3 separate regions of the Homo sapiens genome follow, and all the other regions are linked to region 1. Evidence: fine-mapped expression QTL. A gene starts in region 1. Each other region holds a variant in brackets. All regions are shown on one strand. Distances are between the middles of the regions.

Region 1 (10,703 bases):
CCTGTTTTAGTGGCCATCTAAAGTCGCCACACAAGAAATGAAATAAGACAAATTCAAAATGTTGTATACTCTCACGTGTGTAATCCCAGCAGTTTGGGAGGCCGAGGCAGGCAGATCACTTGAGCTCAGGAGTTTGAACCCAGCCTGGCCAACACGGCAAAACCCTGTCTCTACCAAAAATACAAAAATTAGCCAGGCATGGTGGTGTGCACCTATAATCCCAGCTACTCAGGAGGCTGAGGCAGGAGAATCGCTTGAACCCGAGAGGCAGAAGTTGTAGTGAGCCAAGATCACTACAGTGAGTGAGATTCCATCTCAAAAAAAAAAAAAAAAAAAAATGTATACATCACAGCAGCATTCACAATAACCAAAAAAGGTAGAAGCAACCCAAGGGTTCACTGATGGATGACTGGATAAACAAAATCTGGAATTTATCGACAATAGGATATTATTTTTTGCCATAATAAGAAGGAAATTCTGACATATGCTACAACATAGATGAATCTCGAGCGCATTATGCTAAGTGAAATAAGCCAGTCACAAGATAACAAATATTGTATGAATCCATTTACATAAGCTATCTAGAGTAGTCAAATTCAGAGTGACAGGAAATAGAGGGGTGATTGCTAGGGGCTTGGGGGATAGCAAGGATGGAGAATTGATGAATGGGGATAGAATTCCAGTCGTGCAAAATGGAAAGAGTTCTGCCAGTTGGTTGCACAACAAGGTGAATGAACCTAAGACTACTGACCTTTACCTAGGTGACCTGTACATGTAACATGTTTAAGATGGTAAACTTTATGTGGATGTTACTATAATTTTTTAAAAAGCGATGTATGCTACATTCTTCTATTGTGTTACTATGCAGGAACTTTACAAAAATTCTTTCATTTATTTAATAGATTTGTACTGAGTACCACTAAGAGCTAGGCACTATTCCAGCAGCTGAGATATAGCCACAAGCAACATCTCTAGTCTTTGAAACTTACAATGCGGTGTAGGAAACAATATAGATAAGTCAGTACACACATATTAGAAAACACGTGGCAGTGATAAATTCTATAAACAGAACAAATTAGAGGGAAGTGATACTGAGCTAACAAGAGGGCTATTTCACACTCGATGTGAAAAGTTATTGATTTATTTTCTACAATATTAGGCACTCACAGTTGGTAAAACAGCTGTTGGACTACTGGCCAAAAAGAAAAACTAATACAATATTGAAGGGGCTTTGTTCAATTCAGGCTGTTTTAATGCTATTTAAAAATAAAGATCATAGTTTAAGTTTTTTCATAGTCTAATTTTTATTCTATAACTCACTGAAGTAGATTTACCATAGGATGATTATCAGTGGAGTTCATTTCTCACTCCTATTCAGAATTCTCATAGTATAACATTGTGAACAAAATTGTCTTATCGCTTAGCAAACACAGGAAAGGGTGTTCAGAGTTCCAGGAAGAAAAAGAGAAAATAGCCTTTGGAGAAAGTAAAATAAAGACCTGGCAGAGGGAATCTGAGGACATCTTATTATGGCAAAGTGATCTAGTGCAGGGGTCCCCAACCCCTGGGCCACCAACCAGTACCAGTCTGTGGCCTGTCAGGAACTGGGCCACACAGTAGGAGATGAGCCATGGGCGAGCAAGCATTACTGCCTGAGCTCCACCTCCTGTCAGATCAGTGGTGGCTTTAGATTCTCATGGGAGTGTGAACCCCATTGTAACCCGCACATGCGAGGGATCTAGGTTGCCTGATCATCCAAGATGGAACAGTTTCATCCCGAAACCATCTTTACCCCCACAACCCCATGGAAAAATTACCTTCCATGAAACCTGTCCCTGGTGCCAAAGAGTTTGAGGACTGATGATCTAGTGGACCCTCTGTCCTAGCCAAAGTTGGTAATGTGACTTTCCAAGATGAAGCTGTTGCAGGTTGCACCTTTGTGCGAGGTGGTAGCAGAGGCCTAGAGTGCAGGCAAACAGGGGACTCAGCATCAGTCCCTTCAGAATTCACTGCTGGGGGCTCACTATTCATTTCAAAAGCTGCAGCATAGTGAACAGATTCTTGCATTACTACCGGGCCCTTCTTCAGAAAAGAAATCTGTGGTAGAACCTGGGTATCCACTTACACAGCCAGGTCCTAATGTCAGCAATCATTCATTCATTCCTACCACAGAGTGACTCATGCTTTATTTCTCCCTCAGACTTCAGATGAACTCAGAAGGCCAGGGAACAGAGGTCAGCTCTATCCCCAGATGCTATGCTTAACACAGTCACTTCTTTCTCTATTGTCGCAGAAAGTGAGCCCCACAGGCCTACGCTTATTTGTCGTAAATATCTGGAGCTATCCCATACTCGTATGGGATAGATTGTTTTCTATGCTAAGGAAAAAGAAACATTCAAACAAATCAACCTGCTTACTGAGATGTATGTCACAATCTGTTTTGGCCAGACGGTCATTTGTTGGAAAATTCAGTAGGTACTATGTGGAAGAACTCAGGGCAGAAAGACATAATATTGATTTGTTGAGTGGCTGCGGTGGCCCAGGCACCAAGATGTGTTTGGAGGACAGAACAGAACAAGATCTATGTGGTCCCTGCCCTCAGAGAACTCCCAGACCAGCTAGAAAACAAAATGATTCAAGGACTAAGGAACTGTGGTAAGTGGTGTGACAGAAGGGGTGTCACGGAAGTATATGAAAGGAAAAATTAATTAACTTCATCTAGGGGATGAGGAAACCCTCCCAGAGAAAATGGCACTTAAGCAAAGATCTAAGGATGCACTGGAGTGGGGAAGTGATAGGCAGGGCACTAGGAAAAGAGAAGGGCATTTGCAAAGGTCTGGAAGCAAAAGGGCACACAATGTTCGGGGAAAATGTGGGGGGAAATCCAGTTTCTTTGGGTTATAATGTGAGGAGATGAGGCGGCAGGGAGGGAGAGACAGGGCTGGAATGCAGGGCTGGGTGGGACTGGGAATGGTCTTGTAAAGGGTTGATGCAGGCCAGCTGTGAGGTTCGTGTGGCTAATAAAAAGGGAGCCACAAAGCCCGGTGTAGGAGACCAGTTAGCAGCTTAAGGAGAAAGATGGGAGAATGGCCTGTACTGGGAAGAGGCAGTAGAGAAGAAAGAGACATGGAAGGACGAAAGACAGATTTAGGAGGTAGAACCCCCAGGATGCCCTTCCTCCCCACAGGTAAATAACACCTGGGCTTCACTCATTCCACAGAGATCTAAGCAAAAACGAAACTATGTTGGAAGAGGATTCAAATCACATGAAGCATTTATGAAGTGGCAGTGTCACACATGATACCTTCTGACATGTATGAGAGGGATGGCAGACTGATTCCTGCTTTAGATAGTTAATCACCACACAGTTAATGAAACAAGACAAATTTTAAATGATGCATAGGCCAGGCACAGTGGCTCACACCTGTAATCTCAGCACTTTGGGAAGCCAAGGTTGGCAGATGAGTTGAGGTCAGGAGTTCGAGACCAGCCTGAGCAACAAGGTAAAATCCCGTCTCTACTAAAAATACAAAAATTATCTGGGCATGGTGGTGGGTGCCTATAATCCCAGCTACTAGGTAGGCTGAGGCAGGAGAACTGCTTGCTTGAACCCAGGAACCAGAGGTTGCAGTGGGCCGAGATTTTGCCGTCACACTCTAGGCTGGGCAGCAGAGCAAGACTCCATCTCAAAAAAAATTTTTTTAATTAAAAAAAATTAAAAGTGATGTATATATCACTATTACATAAATGATGCAACAGCATTATTCACAATAGCCAAAAGGTAAAAGCAATCTAAGTGTCTATGGATGGAAGACTGGATAAACAAAATGTGGTATTTATGCACAATAGAATATCATTCAACCTTCAAAAGGAAGGACATTCTGACACATGCTACAATATGGATGAACCTGGAGGACATTAAGCTCAGTGAAATAAGCCAGTCACGAAAGGACAAATACGGTCCGATTCCAGTTCTATGAGGTACCTAAAGTAGTTAAATTTATAGAGAGAAAAAAGTAGAATGGTGATCACCAGGGCCTGTGAGGGAGGGAGGAAAGGAGAGTTAGTGTTTAGTGGGTACAGTGTCAGTTTGGGAAGAGGAAAAAATCCCAGGAGTGGATGGTGGTGAGGGTATCACAACAATGTGAATGTATGTCATACCAATGAGCTGTACACTTAAAGATGGTTACAACGGTCAACTGTATGTTACATATATGTTACCACAGGTTTTTTTTTTAATTTAAAAATATTCTTTTAAAAAAAGCAGTCACTGTCATTCCTAGTGTTGTCCACTCTGGAATATTCAAAATTATTTCAAACCAATGCTAAATTAACTTGAATTTTAAAAATAGTTTTAATTTTAAACAATTATAAAGGCAATACGTTTTCATTGTAAAAATCTAGAAAATACAAAAAAGTGTTATTAAAGGATAATTTTTAGAAAAAATGTAAACATCGTGACTTTCACACAAATATAAAATGAATATGTGTGAAAGAGGTTATTTAACTCATTATTGAATAAGGAAACCAGTATGATGTTAAAACCAAAGAAGCTGGCCACTTGCCTGCAGTCCTAGCTACTCCAGAGGCTGAGGCGGGAGACTCACCTGAGCCCAGGAGTTTGCAACCAGCCTGGGCAACACAGCGAAACTCCCCAACCCTGTTTAAAATAAATAAATAAATAAATAAATAAATAAATAAATAAAAGAAAAAGGAAAAAAAAAAAGCAAAGAACAAAAGGACACACATATACAGACAAACAGGAATGCTAAAATGAATTTACAAATCAATGCCATACTGGTCAGTATCCATTGGACAATAATCATTCCACTGGGACGAACTCATTAGCCTTGATGTTGGCAAAAGTCATTTGCAATACTACAGGCTTTCTATAATTTATAGAGTTGTAAAATAACCTACAGACGAGAAAGGCCACAGTACACTGTAAAATTAAATAAACCTGCAAAAAACGCTAAGCAGGACATCCGGGAACACTGGTCCCTCTTTCTAGTCCCCTTGAAAGTCTCACAAGGCTGAAAAAGGAAAGTAAAATCCTTGTGTAACCCTTCTGCCCAGAAGTACACTGGCACAGATTCTTTAGAGACGAATTTAATCCAGAGTGTGGAGCCTTTATTAAGGAAATAATCCGGTGCAACGTTCTGGGACACGCTCCTGGACTGGGTGGGCTTCTGCACACTCACCCAGCGCACCTCCAATCCCCGGGAGCGCTCGGCACCGCCCACTTCTCTGCGAGTGGCTGCAAGTTGCAGAGCAAACCAGGGGGCGATCTGGAACCCTCTGGGAGTAAAGGGCTAAGCTATAAGCGCAGGGTCGACGGGCAGGGACCGGAAACAAATTCTAGGAACCGAGATCCGCTGAGCAGCAGGGAAGCTGCGCAGCCACCGCGTCCCGCCAGCGCCGCCTCTTTCCCTCCCCGCCCACCGCCCGCCTGGCCCGGCGGGGCGGCGCGAGGACCCAGGGGCGGGGCGACCTTTGCTCCGGCCGTGAGCAGTCCAGGCCAGGCGTGGCCCAGCCGCCCGGCTGCAAGGTGGGGTGTCCCCGCCGCTCGGATCCCCATCTCACCTGCCGCGGGCGAGGTGGCCCCGCCGCTTCCTGCGCTCACCTCGGGTCCCTCCCTCCCGGGCCAGGTTTGGCCGCGGCAGCCGCCCCTGGGCGCCCGCGCCCGGACCCGCGGTTTCGGTCAGACCCGCCCGCGGGCTGGTTTCGATTAGGGCCAGTAGGAGGGCGGAGCGGCCGGGACGCCAGGAGGGAACTAGCCTAAGTGGGGACGGTCCCCGTGCAGGAGACAAAGAGCGTCCCTGGAGCGATCAGGGCTCAGGAGCCCGACCCGGAGCCCGGGGCGTCCGCGCTGACTTCGGGTCCCCGGAGCCTGGGGCACGGCAGGGAGAAGACGACGGCGGAGAAGGCGACAGCGGAGAAGGAAGGCAGGCTGCAGGGGCGCCGTCGGCGCGGCGGGCCGGGATGCGGACGCCGGTGGTGATGACGCTGGGCATGGTGTTGGCGCCCTGCGGGCTCCTGCTCAACCTGACCGGCACCCTGGCGCCCGGCTGGCGGCTGGTGAAGGGCTTCCTGAACCAGCCAGTGGACGTGGAGTTGTACCAGGGCCTGTGGGACATGTGTCGCGAGCAGAGCAGCCGCGAGCGCGAGTGCGGCCAGACGGACCAGTGGGGCTACTTCGAGGCCCAGCCCGTGCTGGTGGCGCGGGCACTCATGGTCACCTCGCTGGCCGCCACGGTCCTGGGGCTTCTGCTGGCGTCGCTGGGCGTGCGCTGCTGGCAGGACGAGCCCAACTTCGTGCTGGCAGGGCTCTCGGGCGTCGTGCTCTTCGTCGCTGGCCTCCTCGGCCTCATCCCGGTGTCCTGGTACAACCACTTCTTGGGGGACCGCGACGTGCTGCCCGCCCCGGCCAGCCCGGTCACGGTGCAGGTCAGCTACAGCCTGGTCCTGGGCTACCTGGGCAGCTGCCTCCTGCTGCTGGGCGGCTTCTCGCTGGCGCTCAGCTTCGCGCCCTGGTGCGACGAGCGTTGTCGCCGCCGCCGCAAGGGACCCTCCGCCGGGCCTCGCCGCAGCAGCGTCAGCACCATCCAAGTGGAGTGGCCCGAGCCCGACCTGGCGCCCGCCATCAAGTACTACAGCGACGGCCAGCACCGACCGCCGCCTGCCCAGCACCGCAAGCCCAAGCCCAAGCCCAAGGTCGGCTTCCCCATGCCGCGGCCGCGGCCCAAGGCCTACACCAACTCGGTGGACGTCCTCGACGGGGAGGGGTGGGAGTCCCAGGACGCTCCCTCGTGCAGCACCCACCCCTGCGACAGCTCGCTGCCCTGCGACTCCGACCTCTAGACGCTTGTAGAGCCTGGGGGGCGCCGGGTGGCAAAGGACTCACCCCCGCACAGGCCCGCCTGGCTTCGAGTTGGAACCCGGACACTTGCCCCTCACTGGTGTGGATGGAAATCTGCCTTTCGTGGGACCAAACAGGACTCCTTGGACGATTAGTTCAGGTTGGGTTTGGTTTTCTTCTTAAAGAGTTTAGTTTTCCTCTCCAGAGGGATCAGGGTCCTCTTAGGGAGTGACGGGCTTTTCATATATTTTTGCTGAAGAATATATGGAAAGGGTGGCATTTGCGTCACGTGGACCAGGGACAGTGCTGAAATCAGCAGTGCTCAGAAACAATTTAACATGTTGAAACGACAATATTCTAAAATACTGATGAATCTTGCATCAATATAATTATTGGGTTTTTTTTCTTTTTCCTGCTGTATAACTCCTTGCCATGCAAACTCTCAAGAGGCCAATATATTCCTGGCCATGTTTGAATGAGCCTCTTAAAATAAACTTAGAGCCATGCAAATGCCAGCAGCTTAATGGATTTCATGGAATGAAATACCGTGATTAACTCATAGCTACATATCATTGCATAAATGGGATTTATCTTTTTTCTCACTTATTTTTGCGGTGAAAGTCGAGGGCATGCAAGAGTTTCTCTTCCAGAAGCCAAGAGGAGAACAAAGGTCCTAATGCTGTACTATTCCACCCTTTGGACGCCTCATCCAGGACGCAGAGGACTCTAGGTTTAACATTTTGTACAAAATGGAACCTGTTAATCATATTAAAGCACATATGTATATATCTTTTATTTATAAATAAAATTTTAAAACAATAGTTTCAGTATAGCCACAAAAGCTCTTTTGTCTTCAGTACAACGTTTGGGAGTTTAAACATTCATTACTAACAATTTCCTGGCTGCCTCGGCACTTGTGTCTGAAATCTAGCACTCAAATCTTTGCACCTCTTAGCATAAGGTTACTAAAAAAAGCCAACGGGCCCCACTTAAGTCCCTGATTGCTTTGGTTTTAGGTTCATGCCATTTCTGTGCAAAGCCAAGTCTATTGCTGAGAAAACGAGAAGCACCAGTTTCCACTTGAGGTGAGACTGGAAATCTTTTCCTTTGTAGCAGTGGTGTTTAGAATCACAGGAAGGCAGCTATGTGTTCCATGAAGGGGACTGGGTCTCCAGCAGGGCTGGCTTCAATTCCAAGTGGTTGATTTAAGGGTACCTTTAACCGAACTGAATCTCTTCTTTAAAACCTGCCGTTCAGAGGTAGGAACATTCATTCAGTTCAGCAAGCACTGATAATAGCTATAGTGAGGCTAACTTAATAGCACATGCTGCCTGTTAGAGTGGAAGGGATGACAGAGATTCACTTCCCTTGCCATTTGGTACTGGAATCACTTCTTTCTCTCTTTCTGAAGCCAGGCTTTAACGTGTAGGCGGTATCACTTTGGAATCTCTTTCAAATGCAGATTCTGATTCAGTAGATCTGGAGTGAGGCCCTGAAAAGATTTCCTAACTGGCTTCCAGGAGATGCCAATGCTGCCGGCTCATGGACCACACTTGGAGTTGCAAGGCTTTCGCTGGGACTGTCTCACTCAAATTTCAATCCCAACTGGTGGCTCATATTCAGACCTTTGAGTGCCTGCTACCGAGATGCGCTTGGGGACTTGCTCGAGGGTACAGAGCCAAAAGGGAGAAAGTGCAACAGGGCTCTTTTCCACTAACACCTCCGAAGGCAGCAATTAGGGACCTGAGAAGTCAGCACCTAGCAGACACCGTACAGGTACTGGGCTCCTGGCAAATGGTGAGTCTGGGCTGCATCATAATTCTATCTCCAGGGAAGCTTTGGTAAAAACACACAAAACTTTTGTGTGTTTTGCTTTTCTCCCCATCCCAATGATTCTCCACTGCCTTATATGCAAAACATTTCCTGCCTGAGGATTAGGATTCGGTTGCTGGGAGTTAAAACTCTACTTTTCCCCTATCAAGAGAACGAAGCCAAAACTCCTCCTTTAAAAATACAAACTCCTTTTTGCTATAGAAATATTCAAGACAGCCTGTAATCCCAGTGCTTTGGGAGGCCAAGTGGAAGGAATGCTTTGAGGCCAGGAGTTCGAGACCAGCCTGGGCAACATAGCTAGACCCCATGTCTACAAAAAAATTTTTAAAAGTTAGTCAGGCATAGTGGCAACATGTCTAGAGTCCTAGCTACTTAGGAGGCTGAGGCAGCAGGATCACTTGAGCCCAGGAGTTCAAGGCAGTAGTGAACTAAAAGCACATCACTGCATTCCAGCCTGGGCAACAGAGCGAGACTGTCTCTTAAATTAAAAAAAAAAAAAAAAAAAAAAAAAAAAAAAAACGGGCATGATGGCTCATGCCTGTAACCCCAGCACTTTGGGAGGCCGAGGTGGGCCCATCACGAGGTCAGGAAATCGAGACCATCCTGGCTAACATGGTGAAACCCCGTCTCTACTAAAAATACAAAAAATTAGCCGGGCATGGTGGCGTGCGCCTGTAGTCCCAGCTACTCGGGAGGCTGAGGCAGGAGAATGGCGTGAACCCGGGAGGCGGAGCTTGCAGTGAACCGAGATGGTGCCACTGCACTCCAGCCTGGGTGACAGAGCGAGACTCTGTCTCAAAGAAAAAAAAAAAAAAAAGGTTCAGGAGAGCATGGAAAGAGAGTCCTGCATCAGTCTGGGATCCACGTTTGCCCTGCGGGTCATTCTCTGCCACAGCAAGTCTCAGGAGTTGCTGCTGTGGGCAAGAATTTATCCTAAACTTTTCCTAAACTTACCACTGACCAGCCCAGCAACTGCACCACAGAGAACACACTCAAAGCACTTCTGTCTTGTATCAAGCCCTCTGACCTACCAGACTCATGTTTAATCCTCCCAATCCCCAAAGGAAGTATAAGTCCCCATTGAATGGATGAAGTCTTTTCTAGATTACTCAAGTGATGCCAGGAGGACGGTGAGTTCTGTGAAGGTAAGGCAGAAACTGCTTTAACACATCCCTGCTCTACCCGTTCGCCAATCTGGCTCTTATCTGGACACACGCCCTCACCAAGGAGGGGTGTGGCTTTGAGCACACAGCTGGTTCTCCACCGTGGAGGCTGCGGGAGGTGCTGTCAGGGTGCTTTGGCAACCATCCTTCCCTTCATTGTGTAGATCGTTCACCCAGTATGTTTTTGAGCGTCTGACATTTTGCCAGCACATTTGTGGGCACCATGAAAAACAATACCATCCAGGCCCATTCTGTGTGGAACTTAAATAATCTCCTGTGATCATGTACAAATAAAATGAAAAAGATTAAGCCAGAAATCAAGGGATGGAGGAAGAAAGGTGTTTTTTGTTTTTGTTTTGTTTTTGGGAGACAGGGTCTCACTCTGTCACCCAGGCTAAAGTGCAGTGACATGATCAGGGCTCACTGCAGCCTCAACCTCCCAACCTCAGTGGATCCTCCAGCCTCAGCCTTCCAAGTAGCTGGGACCACAGATATGCATCACATCACCCAGCTAATTTTTTTTTTTTTTAAACAGACAGAATCTCACTATGTCACCCAGGCTGGTCTCGAACTCCTGAGCTCAAGTGATCCTCTCACCTTGGCCTCCCAAAGTGCTGGAATTAGAGGTGAAAGCTCCCACACCTGGCCAAAGGTGATATTTTAGGAAAAGTGGTCAAGAAGAAGGAGGTACTTGGGCAGAGAACTGAAAGAAGAGAGAGAGGAGCCTTTTAGGCAGAAGGAACAACTTCAAGTTTCCACTAGAGAAAATGTGAAAACAGGTGGGCGTCTCAGTCTTACTACCAGCTAGTTTTGCTTCTCTTTCTAGAATCGGGTGGTAAGGCCAAGAA
Region 2 (10,703 bases), 21 kb before region 1:
GGTCAAGGGTGACTTCTAGGCCAGGTGCGGTGGCTCACGCCTGTAATTCCAGCACTTTGGGAGGCCAAGGCGGGCGGATTACCTGAGGTCAGGAGTTTAAGACCAGCCTGGTCAACATGACAAAACTCCATCTCTACTAAAAATACAAAAATTAGCCAGGTGTGATGGTGGGCGCCTGTAATCTCAGCTACTCGGGAAGCTGAGGCAGGAGAATCACTTGAACCCAGGAGATGAAGCTTGCAGTGAGCCGAGATCACACCATTGCACTCCAGCCTGGGCAACAAGAGTGAAACTCCATCACAAAAAAAAAAAAAAAAAAAAACAAGGGATGACTTCTAGTTTTTTGTCTGAGCAGCTAAATTAAAGAGAGGTCCATGCAGGAAGAAAAGGAAGACTAGGCAAGAAGTGGGTGGGATGAAGACAGGGGAGAAGTTCACATGGACAGTTTGCTTTGGATCATGTTAAGTTTGAGGTGCCTCTTAGAAATCCAAGTGGACAATTCCATATGCAATTCTGGAGCTCAGATGAGAGGCTAAGGGTCTTCAACATATGCATAAGATGACTTGATGGCCTTAGCAGCAGGGAGAGACAGAGGAGAAGATATCCCAGATCAAAATCCTGGAGCACCCCCACATTTAGAAATCCACCAAGGAGAAGGGAACTAAGGAGATAAGTAAAAGAGTCGTGTCAGTGGAGGAATTCCAGGCAACAGTGCAATCCTGGAAGCCTGGAGAAAACTACATTTCCAGAAAAGCAGAGTGTTCAGCTGTGTCAAATGCTGCTCTGAGGACAGGAAATTGACAGGAATTGACCATGAGATTTAACAGATATGGAGGTCATTGTGGAACTTGATGGGCTAGAGCCAAAGAACTAATTGGAGCAGGATGATGACAAGAGTCTGTGAGAATGGAGGCCTAATATCAAGTCTTTTGAGAGGACACGCTTTGTTCAGAAGCAGAGCCCTAGAGCAGTAGCGGAAAGGAGATGTGCGATCCACAGAAGAAATTTTAAAGATGGCACCACGCAGGATACTGTATTATCTCAATTTTTACAATCGCACCATGCTACAGGTATTATTGTCCTCATTTTATGCATGAGAAACCTGAAACAGAAAAGTGAATTCCTCACGCATCAAAATTTTTAAAACCTAAAGAACAGCAAATGCTATTATTACGTGAGACCTGAACTGTTTCCACAGGACCCTCATGTCTCCCGATAAAATACAACAGCAAAGGTCAAGTACTTTTGTTTTCCTGTTCAACAGAATGACGCAGTCGTATGCCAAGCAGCCTAAGCGGCCTTATTTGTATCTTTCTGTTACTTGTTGACTTCGAATCTTTGATTAAATACAGGAAGCTTTCTGTCACTTTTGAGTCACTGGTCAGTATCTGCCTTGATCAAGCCTGAATTTGGTTTCCAAGCTGGCAGTCTTTCTTCTAGCTATGCCTCTCAAATCTTTCACATGAAATGATGCAACAAGTTTTTAGGTCATCAAAAGGTATTTTGCTGTTATTGTTGCTTTAACTCTTAAAATTGGTAACCTTAGTAGTACCCAAGATTTCAAGACTTATCAAGGCTGACACAGTCTATAGAAAGTCCAATTTTGTCTTAAACCATGACAGATTACCCTTAAAAGGAATAAACTCAAGCATTTATTTTACTGAGATTAAAAGACATATATTTACTAAGTGTCTGCTCTATGCCAGGAATGGTGTTAGAGGGAGGCTGGTAGAAAACACAAAATAGGCTGGGCACGGTGGCTCATGCCTGTAATCCCAGCACTTTGGGAGGCTAAGGCAGGTGGATCACCTGAGGTCGGAAGTTTGAGACCAGCGTGGCCAACATGGCGAAACCCCATCTCTACTAAAAATACAAAAATTAGCCAGGCGTGGTGGTGCACACCTGTAGTCCCAGCTACTCAGGAGGCTGAAGCAGGAGAATCACTCGAACCCGGGAGGGAGAGGTTGCAGTGACCTGAGATCGCGCCACTGCACTCCAGCCTGGATGACAGCCCAAGACTCCGTCTCAAAAAAAAAAGAAAAAAGAAAAGAAAAGAAAACACAAAGTTGCCAGTGCCCTTGCAGTTGTGTGACAGAGCAACCACGGGAGACCCTGGGAAAACCAGCCCGGAGAAATCTGCCTAGGGGTGAATAGTAACCTATTTGGTGTGAGCTGAGAAAACTCTATATTTGAATTTATATGCAAAACAATCGATTCATTATATCATTATATGCACTGAAGGCAACAGCATTTTTATTTATTTGCAATCGTCCTAGAATTAGTTTTTAAAAAGCGTGTTGAAAGTTCTTATAACTTTTTTATATTAAATAATATACAGCTATTTAGAATAAAATACACACACATGCTATGAATAGAACTAGTTATAGTAAATTGTTTTAAGTCTAGATAAAATTATATTATTATGTAAATTATATAACACAACAGCATACATAATCATACTACATGTAGTATTCTATTTATATTAAAGTTTTCATTTTAGATAATAAACCTAATCTGTTATTCTTAGAAAAATACACTATGCCAAAAACTGTTCGTGCTAGAACTGCGGCTGACCACAACTGCCAAATTCAGGTCCCGCTCAGGTGGTATCTGGCTGAGGAGGGCAGTTCTTTTTTTGGGATGGAGTCTCGCTCTGTTTGCCCATGCTGGAGTGCAGTGGCACAATCTTGGCTCACTGCAACCTCCACCTCCCAGGCTCAAGCGATTCTCCTGCCTCAGCCTCTTGAGTAGCTGGGATTACAGGCACCCGTCACCACGCCTGACTAATTTTTGTAATTTTTTTTTAATAGAGATGGGGTTTCACCGTGTTGGCCAGGCTGGTCTCAAACTCCTGACCTCAAGTGATCCACCTGCCTCCGTCTCCCAAAGTGCTGGGATTACAGGTGCCCGGCTGAGAAGGGCAGTTCTTAATGGCTCTGCACAACTTGCTGGTGTGCACTCACAAGTAGTCAACAGAGGTAGAGTATGACACCCAGGAGGCGTTTTACACTCCCTGTGTTGCAGAGTGGTTGGGCCCAGGGTCTGCTTTCCTGGTTCTGTAAGAAGGAGTGTACAGAGAGCTGAAGTCATTGGCTCCGTGTTTCTGATTTGTTCTTATGGCATATTCATATCCAAAGAAGCTTCCTCGAGGCCAGCTTCCTTCTCCCCTTCTCTGTCTCTGCTTTAACCAGAAATTCTTTTCCTTCAGCTCAAATTACCAACATTTAAAAGGGAAAGATTCTAGGAGGAATAACCATAAAATAATTTAGGGCTAGCAATGTATGTATTAGTCTGCTTTCACACTGCTGATAAAGACATACCCGAGAATGAACAATTTATAAAGAAAAAGAGGTTTAATGGACTCACAATTTCATGCAGCTGGGGAGGCCTCACAATCATGGCGGAAAGGGAAAGGCTCGTCTTACATAGAGGCAAACAAGAGAGAAAGAGGACCAAGTGAAAGGGGTTTCCTTAAAAAACCAAAAGATATTGATAGACTTACTCACTACCACAAGAACAGTATAGGAGAAACCACTCCCATGATTCAATTATCTCCCACTGGGTTCTTCCCACAACACATGGGAATTATGGGAGCTACAATTCAAGATGAGATTTGAGTGGGGACACAGCCAAACCAATGTACATTGGATGTGTGAATGTATAAAATTCCTTGTGTCCCAAATGGAGGGCTTTGAGAATGTAGGATGCTGAGTGGCAGAAGTTTTCCTCTGCCCTTGGGAAAAGAAGGCAGGCTTCAAAGACAACCTTAGCTTCTTCACAAAAATGCCCTTTGCAGCTCCTGTTTCCATGGGGATGGAAATATGTAACTGAGAGTTGTGATGGGTTGAATTGTGGCCCCCTAGAAAGGTATGCTGAAGTTCCAACTCCCAGTACCACTGAATGTGACTTGACTTGGAAATAGTGTCCTTGCAGATGCAATTAGCTAAGTGAAGATGAAGTCAGACTGGAGTGGTGGGTCCTTAGTCAGATATCACTGGTGTTCTTCTAAGAACAGGGAAATGTGGACCCAGACACTTAAGGAAAAGGCCACGTAATGAAGGAGGCAGAGATTGGAGTTAACGCCGCTGCAAACCAAAAATTGCCTAAGGCCAAAAGAAGCTGGAAGACACAAGGAAGGATCCTCCGTTAGAGGCTCAGAGGAAGCGCGGCCCTGCTGACACCTTGATTTCAGACCATAGCCTGCAGAACTGCAGGGTAATGCATTTCTGTTGTTCTAAGCCACTCTGTGTTTCTCTGCAACAGCAGCCCTAGGAAAAAACACGGATGTTAATCAAAAAAATAAAGAAACTTTGAATGCCAACATTACACAAAAGCAATGTGAGAAGTCAAAGGGAAACAAAAGTCCTAAGCTGTTATACAATATCCTTGTGTTTCTTATTCTAGAGAGATGTTAAAAAGGTACTTATTTTCCACCACCTTAAAGGACCCTATTTATCTGTTCAGATGGAAAAATGGACTTTGGAGATTGTGGGGTCAGCCTCCTGACTCTTTGTTCTAAACTCTGGGAACCAAAAAGGACTCACCTACAGTCCACATAGCCTCAGTTTTTACAAGAAATAAAATTTTAGCTAAACTCAGGACCATACAACAGATCGGTTGTGCTTGAAAAGTTGTGTTTTAGAATATGGTTTTCCATTACATGAATAGCAACAAAACTGCTGAGTCAGAAACTCAAGCAACCTCTCCTAACCTCTATCCCGGGTTTTGTAAACACTCACTGGATTCTGGGAAATCACGAGACAGCAGTAAGCAGAATTCCATTTTACCATTTATTAGTCATGCAAACTTGGGCAACTTATTTAATCTTTCTGAGTCTTAGTTTCAACATTTGTAAAAAGGACATTTGTAAACTCCTAATCCACAGATTAAGTGTTAGCAGAGTTTGGACCAAGGACC[G/C]AAAACTGAAAACAAGAAGTGTCAAGCACCACCACGTTTTCAGGCAGGCTTTTGGCCATTTCCACAAGACTTGCAGAATTATCCCCAAACCCATTTGCCGCCATTGCCGAATGAGCCAATTACTCCTCTCAAGATATAAAAGAGAATATTAATAAGATGTGCTAGAGAGGCTGCCAGGGAGAGTGTCCTTGTGGAGGGCTGCTGGGGTGCCATGCAGTTCACCCAAATGGGAGGAGGCAGGTAAGGAAAGGGGTGCCCTTCTGCAACCCACCTGCTTCAGATCAGAGAGAAACCAGAAAATATTAGAAAATGTTGGAAAACTTGAAGTGTGGAGAGTATGCATGGACTGGTGTCTCATTCATGGTTTTTGTTTTGCTTTGTTTTTTAGAGACAGGGTGTCACTGTGTCACCCAGGCTGGAGTGCAGTGGCATGATCATAGCTCACCGCAGCCTTGAACTTCTGGGCTCAGTCAATCCTCCTACCTCAGTTTCCTGAGGAACAAGGACCACAGGTGTGCACCACCATGCCTGACTAATTAAAAAAAAGTTTTTAGAGAGGGGATCTTGCCATGTTGCCCAGGCTGGTCTCAAACTCCCGGCCTCAAGCGATCCTCCCACCTCATCCTCCCAAAATGCTGGGATTATAGGTGTAAGCCACCATGCCCAGCCTCACTTGTGTTTTATAAAAAGGCTGAAAGCGAGAAGCTGTGGCTGAACTTCCCTGGAGGCAGAGGGAGGAGTGGGCTCTAGGAGGAGCTAGAAGCACCACACCAGGGGCATCACAGCGGCTATGACTTCCATGGGCCAGATGGCCTTGATCTGGGCCAAAGAAAGAAAGAAGGAGACTCCATCTGAGAAGACCATCTTGGGAGGAGGGGAGGTGGCAGCAGTAATCCCCACCTACAGGGAGTCAGAGTGGATAGAAGTTGAAGAGGCCAACCCAGGAATGATCATTGGTTGTGCCCAATGGGGCTGTCCAAGATCCCCACAAGAGGGACCCAGGAGACACACAATCCATATGTGGCCATGTGCCACACTTGTGTGGGCAGATTAGCACTGCCCCAGTCAAAGACAGCCTTTTCAGCCCCTCAACACTTCTCCTCTCTTCCCTTGAACCCCAAAGGAGCACAGTAAGTTCGGGGAAAGGACTAGTGGAAGACAGATGAGGGGATAGGAAGGAAGTTAACTGTGGCCTGGCCACACTGTAGACCTCCTAGCTGGAGGCAGGATGCGTCTAAGGAGAGGAAACACTGTGGTGAATTGGATGTGGGTTGGGGCTGGGTGCGGTGTCTCGTGTCCATAATCCCAATAATTCAGGAGGCCAAAGCGAGAGGATCGCTCAGGGCTGAGAATTTGAGACCAGTATGGCCAACACAGCAAGCCTATGTCTTTATGTATTTACTTTAAAAATATTTTTTAAAATAAAAATAAAAAATAAATGTGTGTTGGCATTTCAACTATGTATCAGATTTTTTAATATCTGAAGGTGATAGGTAAATCAATGAACTCAGAAATTCATCCAAGGACAGAGAAGAGCAATTATTGGAAAAATACATGCCATGATATTGAGGAAGAATCAGGTTGGTTTTTACTGTCTCTCTGCAGAGCCCGCCTTGTACAAAGAGCCCTGGGAGATACCGGGAAAATGGGGAGGCCACACCATGGCAGAAGACTCTTTCTAGAGGGATGTCTCTGCCCTGATCTTCCTAGGGAATTTTTGCACTTTTTCTTATGGAGCCTGGAGGAGCATGATGAGTGATGGTGGCCAAACTGGTTCTGCAGAGATGGTCTGGCACCTGCTGTGGTTGAGCTTTGAAGCCTCTGCCAAACACAAGGAGGGCACAGGAAAAGTCACATTTCACACCCCGTTGCAAAAGAATAGGATGAGTTGATGTGAGCTAAGTACTATGCACAATGCCTGGCACCCAGGAAATGGTATATGGAAGGTACAGCATCTTCATTTTACTATAGACAGAATGGATGCTAAAATTCATCCAAATCTTTAGTTGTCTCTATAATCTGAAATTCCACTCTCTGATTAATAAAGTTGTCTTTAAGAAAGTGGTTTTTCATTACGGAAATGAAAATTGTGACTAACAAACTCAAGTCCAGCCTCAGTCTCAGGAGGATCCGTTATGCAAAAAGGACCCTGCCTTTTGCAACATACAACACACAAACCCACAGCGGGTTCCAGTCTCAATGGCTCACTTGTCTGACAGGATCTTCGCTCAGAAAGAAACAATTGTCAGGTTCATGTTGTGGCCTAGCAAGAGTTTGGAAAGTTCCGTAAAGAAAAATAATGTAGACAAATTTAGAACCTGCCCCAGGTGTGTTGATTTGACGCCAAACCATGGATAGGTAACTTGATTCAGCTGAACCTCGTTAAAATAATGTTGGAAAACATTACATTACTGCAACGTCCTTTTTATTTATTTATTTATTTACTTATTTTTTTATTTTTGAGAGAGAGTCTTGCCCTGTTGCCCAGGTTGGAGTGCAGTGGCGCAATCTTGGCTCACTACAACTTCTGCCTCCTGGGTTCAAGCACTTATCCCACTTCAGCCTCCCAAGCAGCTGAGATTACAGGTGTGCACCACTACGCCTGGCTAATTTTTGTATTTTTAGTAGAGATGGGGTTTCACCATGTTGGCCAGGCTGGTCTCAAACTCCTGACCTCACGTGATCCACCAGCCACGGCCTCCCAAAGTTCTGGGATTACAGGCGTGAACCACCACGCTCGGCCCATTACTGCAACACTCTAAGAAATCGGTAATAACCATGTCATTACAGAGAAGCCCAAACCTTCCTATTCTATTTGACATGCACTAATTGAAAAAAGGCACTTTGATTGCTGTAACATAAGCCTATCATCCACTGAATTAGAGTCCATAATTATTAGAATCTATTTTGATGAGCACCTGCTTTGGGGGATGAAATACTCTATATGAGGCCTCTTTCTATCTAATATAGGACTCTTTATCTTTTTAAATGGTGATTTGGTGGCAGATGACAGTCAACATGTCTCTGAATCATCATGAGTTTTTAGCATTTTACGGAACTGGTTTGGAGATTAAAACTAACATCATTTTGTTACAACAGTGGTGCTGTGTAATAAAAAGGAGAAGTCATTCGTAGAGTTCATAAACCTTTTTTTAATAATTTAGATTTTAGGCCGGGCACAGTGGCTCACTCCTGTAATCCCAGCACTTTGGGAGGCCAAGGCAGGCGGACCACCTGAGGTCAGGAGTTTGAGACCAGCCTGACCAACATGGTGAAACCCCGTGTCTACTAAAAGTAAAAAATTTGCTGGGCATGGTGGCATGTGCCTGTAGTCCCAGCTACTCGGGAGGCTGAAGCAGGAGAATCGCTTGAACCCGGGAGGCGGAGGTTGCAGTGAGCCGATATCACGCCACTGCACTCCAGCCTGGGAGGTTGCAGTGAGCTGAGATTGTGCCGCTGCACTCCAGCCTGGGTGACAGAGTGAGACTACATCTCAAAAATAATAATAATTTAAAAAAGTGAATAATTTATATTTTAATTCATTCAACAACTATTCAGTGAGGGCTATTACATGCCCATAGGTAAGTGTTGCAATAAAAAGAAGAAATTTTTACATTTCTATTTTTTAAGGAAGGCATTTTCTGACATTTATGAGTAAGGATATTCCAAGAATATTGTCATGTATCTTGTTGTTTCACAGCTCAAGCTATGGGAATGAAAATTTTAATCTGAGTTTCTAATTATTTCCCCGAGACAGCTTGAGAGAGGGGGAGGTAACTTCCCCCATCTCCTAGGTAGGTGGTAGGTAACTAACCCTGCAGTGCAGAACCAATGCTCTGAAAATGACCAGGAAAAATGCCCCAATATCTACTGCTTCCTTCTAAGTGGGAAGATGGGAAAAGAATATTGGAAGAAAAAAATCAAAGTGATTATGAGAAAATCATAAGGGTAAAAATAAAACATGAGAGAGAGGAAAAGCAGCAGCTCTATATTATTTTTTAAGTCTTGTTATGGCAGTTGGTTGCTTTTATTTTCAAGTGGGTTAACCTGACATTGTATTCACTTTGACTTTAAATGCTAGAAGAGTACATTTCAGCAAAAAGAAAAAAAAAAGGCAATGGGAAACTTTCATTGTTATAAATGAAAAGTTGGCCAGGCATGGTGGCTCATGCCTGTAATTTGAGAATTTTGGGAGGCTGAGGTAGGAGGATCACCTGAGGTCAGGAGTTCAAGACCAGCCTGGCCAACATGGTGAAACTCCGTCTTTACTACAGAAATTGGCTGGGTGTGGTGGCATGTGCCTATAATCTCAGCTACTCAGGAGGCTGAGGCAGGAGAATCATTTGAACCTTGGAGGCAGAGGTTGCAGTGAATCGAGATCATGCCACTGCACTCCGGCCTGGGCAACAAAGCAAGACTCCGTCGCAAAAAAAAAAAAAAAATATATATATATATATATATATATGTATGAAAAGTGACCGTAAACATCTAGGGAGCTGCAGGTGGAAAGAGACAACACCCAAACAGATAAACAAGTGTCTAAAAATGCTGGCAACCGAGCAAGCAAACAAAAGGCATCAGACTTCACCTTGATCCATTATCAGATCTCAGAGTCATCTATGCAATCTTCCTCCCTGAACTTTCTAAATATCCAAAGCCAAATTCCTCCCCTCCCACGTCCCTGTCCCTGGCCTCGCCATTCACACACACCTTCTTTTCCCTGTCTTGCTGTGAAACTTGGCTTTCGCCATGCACCCAGTCCCCAGGCTAACCACCACCCCCAGTACCACATTACTTTTGCTCTTCTCTTCTGGAATACTGACTTCCAAGTCTAACATCTGTCACGTGATACACCGCAATTAAATAGCCTCCTAACCAGCCCCCCTTTCTCTCTGTTCTGCTACAGAGTGATGGCTCAAAACCAAATCAGGGCATGGCATTACCTGGCTTTAAAACCACTCATAGTTCTCTCACCTGCAGAATAAAGACCACACCCTCCAGCGTGACATTCAAGTTTTTTCTGAACCTGCCTCAGCAGCGTCACAGTGATGGCGATGGTGAGATCACACACACACATTTGTACATTTATAGTAGGACAAACTTCATGACCCTCAGGAGTTACTCTTCCAGGTTTTAGCTCCCACTGTTTCCTCTGCCTGGATCGCTTTTCTCCTTTAACTGCCTGGTGAAGTCTCATCCTTCAAGTACCAGCTCCCCAGCTCTATTACTTCCTGGAAGAGAGCTCACATGGAGCTAGAGTTAAGAGTGGTTCCTGCTGACGGCCCAGCACAACAAGGCAGAATGAGTGTGTGTGTCTACAGGCAGGAGTGGCTTATGCTACTTAAGAAAATCAAAGAAACAAGAGGACATATTTTTAAAATAACAGAAATGGAAGCAAACTGAATGAATTTTTTAAAGTTGCTGGAAAGAGAAGAATGAAACATGTCACAAAATAAAGAGACAAGATGATTTCTGGTCCCTTTTTATTTTCAGATGGCTTCACTTGACATTCAGTTTCACTGTAAGCACTGGAACAGCACAAGCCAGCCTTTTATTAAAAAGAGAGAGAGAGAGAGCGCCATTTATTTCCATATTAACTAGAAACAAGCAATGAGTCAGGTGTTTAAAAAAGAACATGATTGCCTTAATATCATCAACAGTGCAACCTCTGAATGAGGATGTGGGCTAGTAAAAATAAAAATAATGATTGATACATTTTTTTCTATTTACTTATCTACAGGGATTAAAAGGATTAGCTAGATGATGGATTGGAATGTTAAAACTCT
Region 3 (10,703 bases), 44 kb before region 1:
TGTTGGGATTATAGGCATGAGCTACCATGCTGGGCTTAATTAATAATATTCTCAGAAAGACAAGACAATATATTGAATCCATAAAACAAATATAAGATGATACACACAATGGACATTTGGAATATATACATTGTGCTTTATTCTACAATTGCTTTTTTTTTTTTTTTTTTTTTGAGATGTAGTCTTGCTCTGTCTGTTGCCCAGGCTGGAGTACAACGGCTTAATCTCAGCCCACTGCAAACTCCGCCTCCCAGGCTCAAGGGATTTTCCTGCCTCACCATCCTGAGTAGCTGGGATTACAGGCACCTGCCACCATGCCCGGCTAATTTTTGTATTTGGTAAAGATGGGGTTTCACTATGTTGGCCAGGCTGGTCTCGAACTCTTGACCTTGTGGTCCATCCACCTCAGCCTCCCAAAGTACTGGGATTACAGGCATGAGCCACCGTGCCCAGCCTACAATAGATTTTCATACCACAATGAGACTGAGTAGTCACTGCTGTACACTGCGATGCACCTCACAAACAGGATGATAAGTGAAGGAAGCCAGGCACAAAAGGGCACATACCCTGTGATTCCACCATAAAACATTCACCAAGGGCTGGAGGTGCAAGAAGTCATCATGGTGGTTACTCTTTAGAGGGAAGCTGTGGAAAACATCTGACAAATTTCCAACACGAAAAGAGAAATAAAAAAGGTTTTATCCAAAAGATCAAGAATCAGAATGGCCTCAATTTCCTCAACAACAACTAGAAGCTAGAGGAGAAGGGAGCAATGCCTTCAAATTTCTAAGGGAAAGTGATTTCCATATCCAGCCAAATTATTGATTAAATGTGAAAAAACACCAAAGTTTTTTTTTTCAAATGTACAAAGTCTTTAAGGATTCCTTCTGTGTAGAGAAAAACTCATACCACATTTCCCCTCTACTCACACCACCACAACAATCATCAACACAGAAGACTTCTGTAACAAATATGTGGACACCAGCTGGGTGTCCTCCAATTCAGTTCCCACACTGTCTACCCAGAGATAATGTCAGATCCCACAGGTTGGGGGCTCAGTCCACAAGACTGCCCCTCCTCCAGTTGCAAATCCAGGTCTCTGCAACTTCTTTTTATTTTATTTTTTTATTTTTTGAGATGGAGTCTCCCTCTGTCACCCAGGCTGCAGTGCAGTGGCATGATCTCAGCTCACTGCAACCTCCATCTCCCAGGTTTGAGTGATTCTCCTGATTCAGACTCCCAAGTAGCTGGGACTACAGGTGCCCACCACCACACCCAGCTAATTTTTGTATTTTTAGTAGAGACCAGGTTTCACCATGTTGGCCAGGCGGGTCTCAAACTCCTGACCTCATGTGATCTACCCACCTCGGCCTCCCAAAGTGCTGAGATTACAAATGTGAGCCACCATGCCTGGCCTCTGGAATTTCTGATCAATGGGCTTCAAGTTGGGGTTCCCACCACCTCCTCTATGGGTTGGATTAATTTGTGGGAGCAAATCGCAGGACTGAAAGAAACACTTACTTACATTTACTGGTTTATTATAAAAGGTATTACAAAGGATACAGATGAAGAGATGCATAGGGTGAGGTAGGACAGAAGGGGTGCAGAGCTTCCATGCCCTCCCTGGGTGCCACCCTCCAGAAAATTCCCTGTGTTCAGCCACCCAGAAGCTCACTGAACCCTGTCTTCTTGGATTTTTCGTCAAACTTCATGTCAGCAGGCCTTCCCCCGGGGTATTGGGTGGGACCCTTTCTGAGGAGAATCTAAAGACCCACATCAGAAAGGTGGGGAAGATTAGAGTCCTGCCTTGGGGCAGATGAAAGGAGGGCAGGAGAAGGTTGGAGAGATTCTGTTTCCTGAGGCCTAACACAAACCAGAATTATAACAAATGACTAACAAGGGCTATGGGACTTATGAGCCAGGAACTGGGGACAAAAACCGATATATATCATAACACCACACCTTCCTTTTACTCTTTTCTCAGGAAGCTAGATATGCCAGAAATATACCCAGAGAAAGCAAGATACGAGATCCATGCAACTAAAGAGAGAAAGAAGCAACGATCATTCCCAAATGTTGGCCAAGAGACAGCATAAGGCGACAGGTATACGGCAAACCCAGAGAGCCAGAAACCCAGATTGGCACAGGTTCGGAGGCTCTGACAGAGTTGTCTTCAAGAAGACAAATTGGCCAGGCGTGGCGGCTCACACCTGTAATCCCAGCACTTTGGGAGGCCGAGGCGGGCGGATCACCTGAGGTCAGGAGTTCAAGACCAGGCTGGCCAACATGGTGAAATCCCATCTCTACTAAAAATACAAAAATTAGCTGGGCATGGTGGCATGCACCTGTAATCCCAGCTACTTGGGAGGCTGAGGCAGGAGAATTGCTTGAACTCAGGAGGCAGGGGTTGCAGTGAGCCAAGGGGGCACCATTGCACTCCAGCCTGGACAACAGAGTGAGACTCTGTCTCAAAAAAAAAAAAAAAAAAAAGACGACAAATTGATAGAATACCTAGAAAGGAGATTTACACAATTAGGGCAAGTTTAGGGTTAACTGTGTATAAATTAGATGGGTGTATTATTGTACGTATATATGTTTGAATCACACGTTCATATTACTATACCTAATATATTATAAACATTATGAAATATAAATAAGAAAATAATGAAATAAAAATAAATATAAATAACAGCTCTATGATTTTCTTCCCTCCCCTTGCAGGTGCGCTGGGCAGGACACAGGCTGGAAGTGCTCAGGGGTTATCTTGTGCATTTCCTGCCTGTGCCCCACAGCGCACCCACAATACAAGCAGTGCCTTCCTTGTATTCGTTGATCAGATAAACCAAGAAGAACCATCAGGCCTTAAAGACATGGAGCACAGAAACTGGGAGAGAAGGTCACATGTTGGTAGATGCCAGGCTCCACTGTAATAAGTCCTGCTGGGTACCCCAAGGTGGGCCCTGAGAAGCTCAGGCCAGCATGAGGTCCTGGACCCTGGAGTTGATGATCAGAAAATTATCAACTCCTGGAAAAAGCAAACGCCCTCAAGACCATCTCAGTTACAGTTCTCCTTTTAGCAATGAGAAAAATGTATGCTTTAGAATCTTGCCTGTCTAGTTCTACATCCATTTAACATATCTGCTTTTGATGGACTCCCAGATAAATGCATGAAACGTAAATATAAAGAGATCGTGTGTGTGTTTAATTTCCTGTCCTAATTGTCTTCCACTGCCTACACAGGCTGCCAAGTCTCTTATTTGCTGCCATTTGGGATGTGAGGTTTCTCCTCATCAATTCCTCTACAGTTCCTGTAAGAGCTCTGAGCCAGAGCTGGGCAGTTTGTTCAGAAAACTTTCTCTGAAATATTTTTAAAGAACTTCACAGAGCCCTTGTTATCTAATAGACAGGCCAAAACATTGACTCCAGGCATGTTTTCCTTTCTGTTTCATCAAAGGAAAATGAAGATGAAAAGCCTTTTTGTAAGTACTTATTCCCTATTAGGAAATTGTTTAAGTAAATCACTTTAGTCAAAAATGTTAGAGGCAGTCTGCCTAAGACAGAATATTTCAGTGGCTAACTTTAATAAATGCTAACTTACAAATTGAGCTCATTGGCCATAATTGCTTGCAACAGTAGGCACTAAACACAGAGATTAGCATAATTGTGATTATAACTCCCATTAGCATTTGTAATGTAATTATAGCCAAGTAACGTGCCAGGATGGAAAGATTCTACTAAAACTTCTCTCGCAAAGACACGAAAAGTGCATGCCCTTCCTCCAGGAGGTAGCATCACGGGGAGATGGCTCTGTGGTGAGGCCTTTAACCTCCCAGCATCTCACTTTTGCATCAGCAAAACATTTTGTGATTATTCAGTATACCTGGCAAGGATACACTGCTGGAAGAAAACTGTTTCTGCTTAAGATGGAGTCAGATTTTGACTTAAGGTGGACACATTTTGCCACCTGCCTGAAACCAGTATGAACACACACAAACAAGAACAGCAAAATGTATTAAATGACAGTTTGCAAGACGTTGGTTATCAGGCAATGAAGCACAGTGACCTCCAAGAGATGGGAAACAAATTAGTGGAGCCCTATTTTTGCCCCAGCTCACTGTCTTGAGACAGTTTCCAGACTGTGGCACAGGAAGGGAGAACCCAGGTAGAAGCTGGTGGACTCCTTTAGGCAAGAAGATGGAAATGAGAGTCCAGGGATAGCAAGGCAGCTGGAGTTTACAGGACAGAGAACCAGCAGAGATAGTTGTACAGAGAGAGAATCCTGGGATCTGGACGGGGTTCTGTCAATATTCACACAGTATTGATCGTGACAGCATGTGAAGATACTACTCAATGCCAGAGGGGCGAAAACATCTGAAAGGATCAGAGAAAAGCACACAGTGTTCACCAAGTGTCAAGACTATTAGCTGTTCCCTCCCACCAGCCAGCCAGGGAGAAAACACATTTTTGAACACTGGGCAGAATACTCATGAACATTCTGTCTTAGCGGTGGGAAATAATTAGCCGCAGACCAAACACTGCTCCAGATCCACCTCACAAATTATGAAATCTAAATCTGAAGGGCTCAAACTATACCCAAGCAACTTAATTGCATCCCAGAGAAAAGCTTAAGAACAGCTATAGGAAAGCAAAGTATCACGTATCCAAAAATGGTAGTAACCACAACGGGTGGTATCTGATAAGGATTATCAAACATAGAAAGTATAAGGAAAATATAACACATGATGGGGGAAATAATTCAAAACTGACTCGAAACTGACACAGATGTTATCATTAGTAGACGAGTACATTGAGCAATTATAACCATATTCCAGATATTCAAAAAGTTAAGTAGAGAAAAATGATTTAACAAAAATACTCTAATTGAACTTCTGT[A/G]AATAAAAAACTACAATATCAAAAATTTAAAAAATTGATGGGATTAATAGTAGATTAGACATAGCAAAAAAATAGATCTGTAAATTTGAAACCATGGCAATGGAAACTATCCAAAATAAAAACACTGAGAGGAAAAACAATTTTTTTTTTCTTTTTTTGACATAGAATCTCACTCTGTTGCCCAGGCTGGAGTAGAGTGGTGCAATCTTGGCTCACTGCAACCTCCGGCTCCCAGGTTCAAGCAATTATCCTGCCACAGCCTCCTGAGTAGCTGAGATTACAGGTGTGTGCCATCACACCTGGCTAATTTTTTTGTGTGTTTTTTTAGTAGAGATGGCGTTTTGCCATGTTGACCAGGCTGGTCTTGAACTCCTGAGCTCATGTGATCCACCTGCCTCGGCCTCCCAAAATCTGGGATTACATGTGTGAGCCACCACGCTTGTCTGGAAAAAAAATTTTTAATTAAAAGAGGATCAGTGAATTCTGAGACAACTTCAACTGGCCTAATACACGTGCAGTGGAGTTGCCAGAGGAGAGGAGAGGCAACTGAACAAATATTTGAAGAAATGACAGTTGAAAACATTGCAAACTTAATTGAAACTAAAAACTCACAGATCCAAGAAGTTCAACAAACCCCCAAGCAAAAGAAGCATGAAACAAAACACTAAGACATATCATAATCAAATTGTTAAAGAAATCAATAATAGACACAAAATATTAGAGCAGCCAGAGGAAAATAATAAGATGTTACATAAAGAGGAAACAAAAATAAAGATGAGAATAGATTTTTTTAATAGAAAACAATGTAAGCCAACAGACATCTTCAAAACATTGAAAGATAAAAACTATCAAGCTAGAATTTTACACCAAGCAAGAATATCTCTCAGAAACAAAGATGAAATGAAGATGTTTTCAAACATAGAAAAACTGAAAGAATTCACTAGCAAATCCACACTGCAAGACATTTTAGAGTCTTTTAGGCAGAAGGAAGTAAGGAGCTTCACAAAAAAGGAACACCAAAAATTGTAACTATATGTGATTTTTCTTATTAAATCTATTTACAAGATAACTGAATATTTAAACAAAAATAAGAACAATGTAGTTAAACTTCATACGTGTAAGTAAAATATATTACAGTGCTAGCAGAGCAACCAGGAGGGGGAAATAGAAATATTCTATTCTGTGATTCTTTTTATTTTATTTTATTTTATTTTTTTGAGATGGAGTCTCGCTCTGTCACCCAGGCTGGAGTGCAGTGGTGCGATCTCGGCTCACTGTAAGCTCCGCCTCCTGGGTTCACGCCATTATCCTGCCTCAGCCTCCTGGGTAGCTGGGACTACAGGCACCTGCCACCATGCCTGGCTAAATTTTTCTATTTTTAGTAGAGACAGGGTTTCACCATGTTAGCCAGGATGGTCTCGATCTGCTGACCTCAGCTCTGTCACCCAGGCTGCAGTGCAGTAGCACGATCTCGGATCTGCAACTTCCACCTCCTGGGTTCAAGTAATTCTCCTGCCTCAGCCTCCCAAGTAGCAGGGATAACAGGTGCCCCCCACCATGCCCAGCTAATTTTTTTTTGTATTTTTAGTAGAGATGGGGTTTCACTGTGTTGCCCGGACTGGTCTCAAACTCCTGACCTCGTGATCCACCCACCTTGACCTCCTAAAGTGCAGGGATTACAAGCATGAGCCACCACACCCAGCCTCTATTGTATGATTCTTACACATAAAGTGGTAGGTCAGACAAAAGAAGACAGTGAAAAATTAGAATTATATGCTCTCCACTATAAACTATATACACTATATTTTACTACTAAAATGACAAAAAGATTTATAGTTAGTAAGCCAATAATAAAAAAAAAATTATTTCAAGGATCAGTTAATTCAAAAGATGGCAAAAATAGAAAAAAGTGAGTAAAGAACAGATAGGACATCTAGAAAACAAACAGCAAGATGGCAGATTTAAACCTAATCATATCAATAATCACATTAAATGTAAATGAGCTAAACAATCTTGATTAACTGCAGAAATGGTCAGACTGGATTGAAAATCTAGACCGAAATAAATACTGTCTATAAGACATGCTCTTCTTGCTCTCCTGGCCCCCACCCACACTGGCACCAGGGAAAGGCCATGTAAGCACATAGTGAGAAGGTGGCTGTTGGCAAGCCAGGAAGAGAGCCCTCACCAGAACCCAAACATGCTGGCACCCTGATCTCAGACTTTCAGCCTCCAGAACTGTGAAAAAATAAATTTCTGTTGTTAAGTCAAAAGAAGAAGAAGAAGAGGAGAAGGAAATGTTCTTTATATATTAAAACATGGGTAAAGTAAAATAATTTAAAAATTATTTTTAATGATATACCATACTAATACTAATCAAAAGAAAATTGGAGTGGCAAATTAGTAACAGTGGCACACAATAACAGAGCTTCAAACTACATAAAGCAAAAATTGTTAGAACTACAAAGAGAACAAAATAAATCCAAAATTATACTTGGAGATTTCAATAATTAGCTCTCTGATTGACAGAAGTAAAAAGAAAGTCATCAAGCTTATCAAAGATTTGAAAGTCACTGTTAAGCAACTTGACATAATTGACGTTTATAAAACACTCCACCTAGCAACAGCAAAACACACAGTGTATTCAAAGACACACAGAGCATTTGCCAAGATAGACAATATTCTGGGCTATAAAACAAGTTACAATAAATTTGGAAGTGTTCATGTCATACTAAGTATGTTCTCTGACCACAATGGAAGTAAATTCAAATCGATTATGAAAAGATCTCTGGAAAATCCCAATTATTTGGATGATGGAAACTAAATAATACACAATTATATACTTGTAAATACTAAATGGATTAAAGAAGAAATCAAAAGAGAAATTAGAAAGTATTTTCAGTTAAATGAAAATGAACATATAGAAATTTTCAGGATGCTGTTAAAGCAGTTCTTAGGGTAAATGTGTAACACTATATGCCTACACTAGAAAGAAGAACGTTCTGAAATCAATTACCTCATCTTCAACCTTAAGAAACTAGAAAAAGTAAGACCAAATTAAATCCAAAGTTACAAGAGTGTTTGGACTTGCTCGTTAATAATAGCTTCTTTAATGTCCTTCTAGAATATTCTATTATCTGTGTCATCTAATCATTGGTGTCTGTTGATTTTCTTTTCCCATGCAAATGATACAGGAGCTAGAAATAAATTATTTAGGCAAATAGTGAGGGTAAAGAGTCTTCAGCAAGGCTTCCCTTCTAACAAAAAGTAGCCCAAGAAATTATTTTTTCTATCAAGGAGCAGCCTGAAAACTTAAGCTGCAAAGATAGATAATCAAGCTGGAAGCTTGCATGTGTGAATGCCAGCAGTGTACCAACAGAAAAGGGCTACCCGGGGGCCAGGCACATCCAACATGGAGGCTCCATCTTCCCTTCTCTTTATTACCAAGTGTACAGTAAAGAAACAGGCGACATGGCTGCAGCCAGGTAGAGAACCCATCCATAATACAAGATTAGGGTGGGAGAAGCCAGTTTTTCACACCCTATGCAAATGGCACACCTAGTCCTAACCAGCTTTTTTGTGCCTTATGCAAATGGCACACCTGGTCCGACCAATGTTTTGGGACCTGTATACATCAGACACTACCTCCTCAAGCTCTGCATTTCACCGTAGACTGGTGACCCGTTCAGGACCCCTATCTCTGCAGGAGAGAGCTCTTCTCTTTCTTTCACCTATTAAACTTCTGCTCTTAAGCTCACTCTTTATGTCTTAATGTCCTAGTTTTCTGTGGCTGTCAGACAACGAACCTCAGGTATTTACCCCAGACAACGATGCCACTTCACAATTAGAGGTTTTTTAATATCACAAGTAATTTTGGTTTGTATCCTGAACATTTTCAGTATTATGCTGGGTCTTGTTTCTATCTGCCAGTTCTATGGCTCTTAGAATTCTGGTGTTGTTCCCTGATTTCCTACTGTTATTTATTTTGCAGAGTTTTCAAATAGCTGTCATTGTACCCTGTCCAGGTTTCAGAGTTGGGCTTAGTGGGAGGTAGGCAGAATTCTAAGCTGGGTCCCAAGAGTCCTACCCCCTGGTTACATGTTCATTATGAGCCCCTTCCCTTGAATGTGAGCAGGATTTGTGGGTACAATGGAATACCACTCCCATAATTATTTTGCTTTATATGGCAGAAGAGATCTTGCAGATGTAATTAAGATCCCTAATCAGTTGACTTTGAATTAATAAAAAAAAGATTATTCTAGATGAACCTAATCTAATCGGATGAGCCTTTAAAAGGAGTCAGAGAATTTCAAAGCCAGATAGATGTCAGCCTTGAAGATGCAGCCTCTGTGAGTTCTCCAGTTGCAAGGAAATGGATTCTGCCAACAGCCACATGAGCTTGGAAGAGAACCCTGAGCCTCAAATGTGACCCCAATTGACACCTGATTGCAGACTTGTAAGAACTGGGGCAGAAAATCAAGCCAGCTGTGGTGGCTCACACCTATAATTCCAGCACTTTGGAAGGCCGAGGCAGGTGGATCACTTGAGGTCAGGAGTTCTAGACCAGCCTAGCCAACATGGCAAAACCCCATCTCTACTAAAAACAAAAATTAGCCAGGCGTGGTGCTGCATGCCTGTAATCCCAGTTACTTGGGAGGCTGAGGCAGGAGAATTGCTCGAACCTGGGAGGTGGAGGTTGCAGTAAGCTGGGATCGCACCACTGCACTCCAGCCTGGGTGACAGACCAAGACTCTATCTCAAAAAAAAAGCAATAAAAGAGAACTAAGGCAGAAAAGCCTGCCAGGACTTCTGACGTACAGAAACTGTGGCTCAAGCAATGATGTTGTATTAAACTTCTTCTTCTTCTTTTTTTTTTAAAAGACAGGATCTCTCTCTGTTTCACCCAGCCTGAAGTGCAGTGGTGCAATCTCAGCTCACTGCAACCTCCCAAGTTCAAGCGATTCTTCCACCTGGAGTAGCTGGGACCCCACCCCAACCAGCCATTTTTTGTATTTTTTGGTAGATGCAGGGTTTCACTCTTTTAGCTAGGCTGGTCTCGAACTACTGATCTCAAGTGATCCACCTGCCTTGGCCTCTCAAAGTGCTGGGATTACAGGTGTAAGCCACCTTGCCTGGCCAATCTTCTATGTTTATAGCAGTTTATTACACTGCAAAATTTAATAGACTTTATCCTACGTGAAACTGTGTCTTAAAAAAGAAATTCTAGGTACTCTATGTTTGAGCAAACGTTATCCTTTAAGTATTGATTAATACTCAATATGCTTTCTAACAAAGCTCTTTGTTGATTTTCCTTCCTCCGTATTCCCAATATAGAATTAGGGAAATAACTTAAAGATTCAGATCTCCTCAACATCAAATTTCCAGCAGTGTAGACTCTAGCAGCTCATCTTTGTGCAATTACAAGCTGCTTCATTACTTCTTTTCCTTTGCCCTCTTGGTTCATCAAGCTCACTGAGTTTTATGAAAGAAAAGCTAATCTTGCTATATAATTGCATTAATTATTGCCACATGAGCCACTCAGCAGGGACAAATAGCAAGCCTGGTATAATGAGTAAACTAGAAGAAGTAACCATTTATAGCCACTCATAGGATAGGCCAAGTCAAAGTTACCATGAAATGATAGGTTGTTTTCTCCAAAACATGACAGCTATCAAAAGAAAGTATAACTTTCATTTAAGATATGCAAGGTGGCCAGGCGTGGTGGCTCCTGCCTATAATCCTAGCACTTCTGGAGACCAAGGCAGGAGGATCACTTGAGCCTAGCAGTTCAAGGCCAGCCTCGGCAACAT

Direction of the effects. Alleles are on the strand shown, and positions count from the first base shown. SD is a standard deviation of normalised expression in the study named. Not every link is listed here.
With allele G in place of C in region 2, the expression in monocytes after LPS of the gene that starts at base 5,521 in region 1 is lower (large effect, 0.80 SD a copy in Fairfax 2014).

What was found.
Region 2: its variant is fine-mapped to the expression of CLDN23 in monocytes after LPS (Fairfax 2014, PIP 0.95). The same link has a PIP of 0.9 or more in monocytes after muramyl dipeptide.
Region 3: its variant is fine-mapped to the expression of CLDN23 in whole blood (INTERVAL, PIP 0.95).

The regions. Positions count from the first base shown.
Region 1 is chr8:8,696,417-8,707,119 of GRCh38, forward strand. It overlaps CLDN23 (claudin 23), which reads left to right and starts at 5,521. Exons shown (of 1, transcript NM_194284.3): 1 at 5,521-7,680. The coding sequence starts at 5,983. The coding sequence ends at 6,861. RefSeq lists a silencer at 5,254-5,873 and an enhancer at 5,347-6,314.
Region 2 is chr8:8,675,675-8,686,377 of GRCh38, forward strand. It overlaps LOC105379225 (a long non-coding RNA gene), which reads right to left. Exons shown (of 3, transcript XR_948927.4): 3 at 10,387-10,465. Among named protein-coding and RNA genes, the nearest start is that of CLDN23, 21 kb to the right of the region's middle. The variant G/C (reference allele first, on the strand shown) is at 4,918.
Region 3 is chr8:8,652,802-8,663,504 of GRCh38, forward strand. No RefSeq gene overlaps it. Among named protein-coding and RNA genes, the nearest start is that of CLDN23, 44 kb to the right of the region's middle. The variant A/G (reference allele first, on the strand shown) is at 4,894.